Regions from separate parts of the Homo sapiens genome. Here region 1 is linked to region 2. The links come from fine-mapping of genetic effects on gene expression. A gene starts in region 2. The other region holds a variant in brackets. All regions are shown on one strand. Distances are from middle to middle. Region 1 has its middle 66 kb from the start of SMOX. Region 2 holds the start of RNF24 (ring finger protein 24).

Region 1 (2,905 bases), 68 kb after region 2:
GTTTCACTTAGCTTCCTGAATCTGTCGGTTCATGTCTTTTGTCAAATTTGGGACATTTTTAGCCATTATTTCTTCAAATACTTTTTCAAATGTAGATCCTTTCACCTCTCCACCTGGGTCTCTAGTGACACAAATGTTAGATCTTTTGTTACAGCCTCACAAGTCTCTTGGGTTCTGTTCATTTTTTTCTCTACTATTTTCTCTCTGTTGCTTGGATTGGGTAATCTTATTGTTCTATTTTCAAGTTCACTAATTCTTTATGCTGTCATCTCTATTTTGCTGTTCAATCCATCCATTGAATTTTAAATTTTGTTGATGTATATTTTGGTTCTAAAATTTCCATTTAGTTCTTTTTTTTTTTTTGAGAAGGAGTCTTGGTCTGTCGCCCAGGCTGGAGTGCAGTGGCGCAAACATCTCGGCTCACTGCAAGCTCCACCTCCTGGGTTTAAGGGATTCTTCTGTCTCAGCCTCTTGAGTACCTGGGATTAGAGGCAGGCACCCCCACGCCTGGCTAATTTTTGTATTTTTAGTAGAGATGGGGTTTCCACCATGTTGGCCAGGCTGGTCTTGAGCCCCTGACCTCAAATGATCCACCCGTCTCAGCCTCCCAAAGTGTTGGGATTACAGGCATGAGCCACTGTGCCTGGCCTCCATTTGGTTCTTTTTTATGTCTCCTGTTTCTTTGCTGAGACCCACGACTTTCTGTTCCTTTGCTGAGACTTTCTATTTTTGTGTGTTTTTTTCAAGGGTTTGTAGTTGCTCATTGAAGCATTTTCATGATGGCTGCTTTGAAATTCTTGTCAGACAATTCTAATATCCATGTCACCTAGGCACTGGTGTCTGTTGATTATTTTTCCTAATTCAATTTGAGGTTTTCTTGGTTCTTGGTTTGATGAGTCATTTTCAACGGAAACCTCAACATTTTGAGTTTCTGTTGTGAGACCTTGGAGCTTCTTTAAATCTGATTTAGCAGAGGCCTCCTCTGACTTGCTCTAGGGAAAGGGGCTGCTACTTTGTTCCTGTCAGGTGAGGTGAAGGTCCAGGTTCCCCACTCTGCCTCTGTTGACAGTCAGGGTCAGGGAAGGAGCGCCTCATCACTGTTGGGCAGTGGGTAGGGTTCAGGCTTCCTACTAGGTCTCCATCGACAACACCCTGGCTGGGAGGGGCAGAGTTCCCTTGTCACTGCTTCACATGTGACCTCCACTGATACTGTGGGGAAGCAGGATAGCCTTGTTACCGTTTGGCAGTTGCGAAAGTCCTGAGTCTCCACCAGGCTTCCTCTGAGACCACTGGAGAGGGGGCGGGGGAGAGGAGGGGGGCGGGGGAGAGGAGGGGGGCGGGGGAGAGGAGGGGGGCGGGGGAGAGGAGGAGGGCGGGGGAGAGGAGGAGGGCGGGGGAGAGGAGGAGGGGTGCTCCGTTACCACCAGCTGGGA[A/G]TGAAAGTCCAGGCTTCCCATGTGGTCTCCACTGACACCCCTGGGAAGGGAGACCTCATTGCTGCCCAGCGGGATAAAAGTCCTGGCTTCCCACCCAGCTTTTTCTGACACTAGCCTGGCCAGGGGGAAGGAGATTGAAACCTCATGATAGCCTGAAGCCGTGAAGTCCAGCCTGAGCCTAGCCATGAAGCCGAGGCTCCCCACTCAGCCTTTGATGGTGCGGGTGGGGGTGGGGTCTTACATTTTTTCCTATGGTATTTGGCTGGCACAGAACGATCATTGTCTAAAAGTTTTCTGTTTTGCTAGGCCACTCCATCTTGGTCCTTTGGCAAGCAGAGCAGGATTTTCTTGGGCTTTTGTGGGGCATCTATTCCCATTGTTGTTTCCAGAATGCTGGCTTCTTTGCACACTGTCTGGGATATATGAGCCAAAAAGATAAACCCAGAGAACTCATTGCTGTGTCATTCCCTAGGCCCCAAAGTCCCTAGCTGGTTTGCCTTCTTCTCTCTGCTTTCAGATGCTTGTTTTATAGGCAGTATCTAGGGTTTTTAGCCATATTTACTGGAAAGAATAGGAAAAAACACATCTACTCCATATTTCTGAGAGTTGAGGTGTCATAGGTTGATTTAACCATGCCACTGATGCCTTTAGCTCTATCTGCCATGCAGCAGGTATCTTCTAGGTCCTTCATGGGGACCAGGCACTAGTTGAGGCCAAAGAGGAGACAAAGACTGACTCTGACTTCAGGAGCTCACAGTTTTGCGGGAACACAGGACTTTGCCCCAGGTAAGCTTGGATAGTGAAGAATAAGATGCTATAGAGGAAGGAATTACTTGAATGGCCTGGTTGGGGAGAGCTTCCTGGGAGGGTGAAAGTGGAGATAGAGTATTTTGGTAAATTTTAGAGAGGAGCTGCAGGAAGTACAGGTGCCAGGAGAGGAGCAGAGGTCCAGAGGGGTAAGTAGGGATGGCAGGAGGCAGCAGGGAGAGAGCTTGCCTGGTTGGGCCCTCAGGTGAAGCGAATGAGCCTGAAGGACACCATGCACAGGGGCTTGACAGTAGTATCTTCAGAACAGGAATCTGGGGATCAACTGTGACATGGCAATTGTGTGGGTGAGCAAAGATGGTGGCCTGGCCAGTGCAGTGGCTATGGGGTGGAGAGGAGAGAACAGGATCAAGAGGCATTTAGAAGGTAGAACTGATGGGTGTCTGGATTGATCTGGGGAAGAAAGAGAGAGGAATTAGATATGAGGCTGAGATTTCCAGCTGAGGTCTCTGGGGAAGAATGGTGCCATAAACACGCAGAGAGAGAAGACAGAGAGGGGAACCAATCTTTGGAATAAGAGGATGAGATTTTGGCCACTGGTACCCAGAGGCCCTTCTTCAGAGAATGATGCAATGAGACCGAGGTGAATATTTTCTCTGAGCACTGAAGTTTCAGATCAAATAAGCAACAGATTTCTGCTCTGTGAA
Region 2 (2,905 bases):
GAACCTACAGCGCTTCCTTCTCTCTCTGGAGATGAGGACAATGAAAAAAGGTGTTCTGTTTTCCAGTAGTCCTGTAAGAGGAGCCATTGAGCTGGGCTGTACAACCAGACAACAGAACACAGGAAAATTCACATCAAAGCAAGGGCGCATGCCAGGGTAATATGCAATAAAACCCTCTGCCAAAGCATTAAGGGGAAAAAAAAGCAAGGAGGTAGAGAGAACCTGCTGGACTACCTTCTCATTAACACAGGGAGGCAGAAAGAAACAAAATCTGCCTGTATTCAGGAGCGGAGAAAACTGTGTCCTAGATATATTGGAGTATTCCTATAGACATGTTTATGAGCATTCGGACAAATTATCAATGAACTAAACCCAGAAAGCAGTGTCCTGTACGGTGGAGTATTCCTATGTAGACAGACATGAGAATCTTACCATTAACTAAGCCCAAAAAGGCAAAGTATTCTAGAAACACAGATATATGAGAATTTAGATGCACATTTCCAATGAATAAAACCCACTGGTTTTACAGTGAGAAAAAACTGTTTGAAATAACATCAGGTAAAGAATTGGGTAAAGGTGTGATGAAGTTATATCCCCTCCCCTTTTCCTCATACCCTTTTTGACAATCTCTGATTCTCTCATTTCATAGATGTCCCTTTCACTTGAATGCGCACACACACACACACACACACACACACACACACACACATCATTAGGTCTCCAGAAACAAAGGAGGGTCCTTAATTCTCCGGCCTGTGGAACCACACACGCCCCCTGCCCACAGATGGTGACTTTCATTAATGAGTAAGCCGAGGGAAGAGGTCTCCACCCCGACCACTGCCATGCACACTGTGACAACGGGGCACGAGACAAGCGCCACAAAGAAAGGGGAGGAGTGGACGGGGACCAGGAAAACACTGCCACGCCGCACCCCCCAAGGCGCGCGCCCACCGCCAACGCGGGGGCAGCGTCCTCGCCATCCTCCTCCTAGCCTCCCAGCTCATCCCAGCCGCCTCCCACGCCCGGGGACCCGATGCCAGGGCTTGGGCGAGCAGGACGTGCGGGGGCCCACGCACCTTCCCTCCGTGATCTCCAGGTGACAGCCCCGCTCCGCCCTTTGTGAGGGACTCACCCTCCAGTCCCGGGGCCGCGCCGGACCCTCCTCCGCGTCCCTCCTCAGCCTGGAGACACCGCCTCACCCCTGCACACCGCGCCCGGCCGGCCGAGGCGCCGGGAGAGTGTGTGTGTGTGGGAGGCTGGCGCGGGCCCGCGGTCTCCTCAGCATCCCGAACCCGGAGCGGCTCGGTCCCCCAAACCCCAGCCCGGGGGCGGCGGCCGCGGCGCTCCCGCCCTCGCTCGCTCACTTACTCGGGCGCGCCGGTGGCAGCGGCAGACGTGCGGGACCGTCAGCGCCCTGCGGCGGGCGGCAGGCTGCGGGCGGCGAGCGTCCGTCCGGACAGAGCGCGGCGGAGGTGGCGGCGGCTGACTGCGCCCGGCGGCCCCTCGCGAGGGGCGGGCCCGCCGGGGGAGGGGCGGGCGCCGCGCCTCTCATTCATGCAGCGGGGGCGGGGTGAGGGACCCGGATGCCCGGGCAGTTTCCCCACCCACCTCGGCGGAGGGCTCGGCGGCTTCAGAGTCTGCAGTGCGCAGGCGCGGCGCTCCCTGGCCAGGCCTGGTGCGGCCCTGGCCGCTGGCTCTGTTCCTGGTTAGAACTACGCCAGACAGGCCGGGCGAGGTGGCTCACGCCTGTAATCCCAGCACTTTGGGAGGCTGAGGCGGGCAGATCACGAGGTCAGGAGATCGAGACCATCTTGGCTAACGCGATGAAACCCCGTCTCTACTAAAAATACAAAAAATTAAATTAGCCGGGTGTGGTGGCGGGCGCCTGTAGTCCCAGCTACTTGGGAGGCTGAGGCAGGAGAATCGCCTGAACCTGGGAGGCGGAGCTTGCAGTGAGCCGAGATCGTGCCACTGCACACCAGCCTGGGCGACAGAGCGAGACTCTGTCTCAAAAAAAAAAAAAAAAAACAACTACTCCAGACAGACCTTCTCCATCGACCGTTTAGTATTTTTGCGTGCCCTACAAGCATTTTTAAAAGTGAAAGCATGGGGCCGGGCGCAGTGGCTCACGCCTGTAATCCCAACACTTTGGGAGGCCAAGGCGGGTGGATCACCTGAGGTCAGGAGTTCCAGACCAGCCTGACCAACATAGAGAAACTCTGTCTCTACTAAAAATACAAAATTAGCTGGGTGTGGTGGCTCATGCCTGTAATCCCAGCTACTCGGGAGGCTAAGGCAGGAAAATCTCTTGAACCCGGGGAGCGGAGGTTGCAGTGAGCCAAGATCGCACCATTGCACTCCAGCCTGGGTGACAGAGCAAGACTCCGTCTCACACACAAAAAAATGAAAGATTGGAATGCCACCCCTTTCCTAGCATGCAGATTGACAGTCCCCAGAGACACAAGAATGGTCACGTGGTGCCCATTGGTTTGATGGGGAGATGGTATGCACCGCACCCTCCTCCATCTGCCCCTCCTGCTGCAGCCTCTCAGCTGAGTGCTAGAACCTTGGTGATGGATGAGACCTAGACTCTGCCCAGATAGTGGAGAGAGGTGTGTGCAAGAAACAGTGCATTCCTTTATTTACATCCACTCCTCAACCTCCGGCTCCCATTCTACAGGGCAGGCAATAAATTGACCTCCGATTTTGGGAGGCTGAGCTCTTCCTGCAATACCAAGGCAAGGATCTGGGGAGTCCTCTCTTGTCTTTAGCAGGCAGTGTATTCTGCAGATACTCTCTTGTTCCCATCGCCTTGTGTCTGCCACTCCTGGGGTACGGAAGTTTCTGGAGAGGCTAGGAGCCTGCAGAGGGAATGGCTGTGAAGCTCCACAGCTGACTGTGTGTG

Evidence for each region.
Region 1: its variant is fine-mapped to the expression of RNF24 in blood mononuclear cells (TOPMed, PIP above 0.99).

Annotation. Positions count from the first base shown.
Region 1 is chr20:4,081,782-4,084,686 of GRCh38, forward strand. No RefSeq gene overlaps it. Among named protein-coding and RNA genes, the nearest start is that of SMOX, 66 kb to the right of the region's middle. RefSeq lists enhancers at 456-655, 569-1,070, 1,071-1,570 and a cis regulatory region at 940-1,637. The variant A/G (reference allele first, on the strand shown) is at 1,434.
Region 2 is chr20:4,014,069-4,016,973 of GRCh38, forward strand. RNF24 (ring finger protein 24) reads right to left here and starts at 1,490. Exons shown (of 6, transcript NM_001134337.3): 1 at 1,369-1,490. RefSeq lists a silencer at 997-1,596 and enhancers at 1,480-2,412, 2,616-2,905.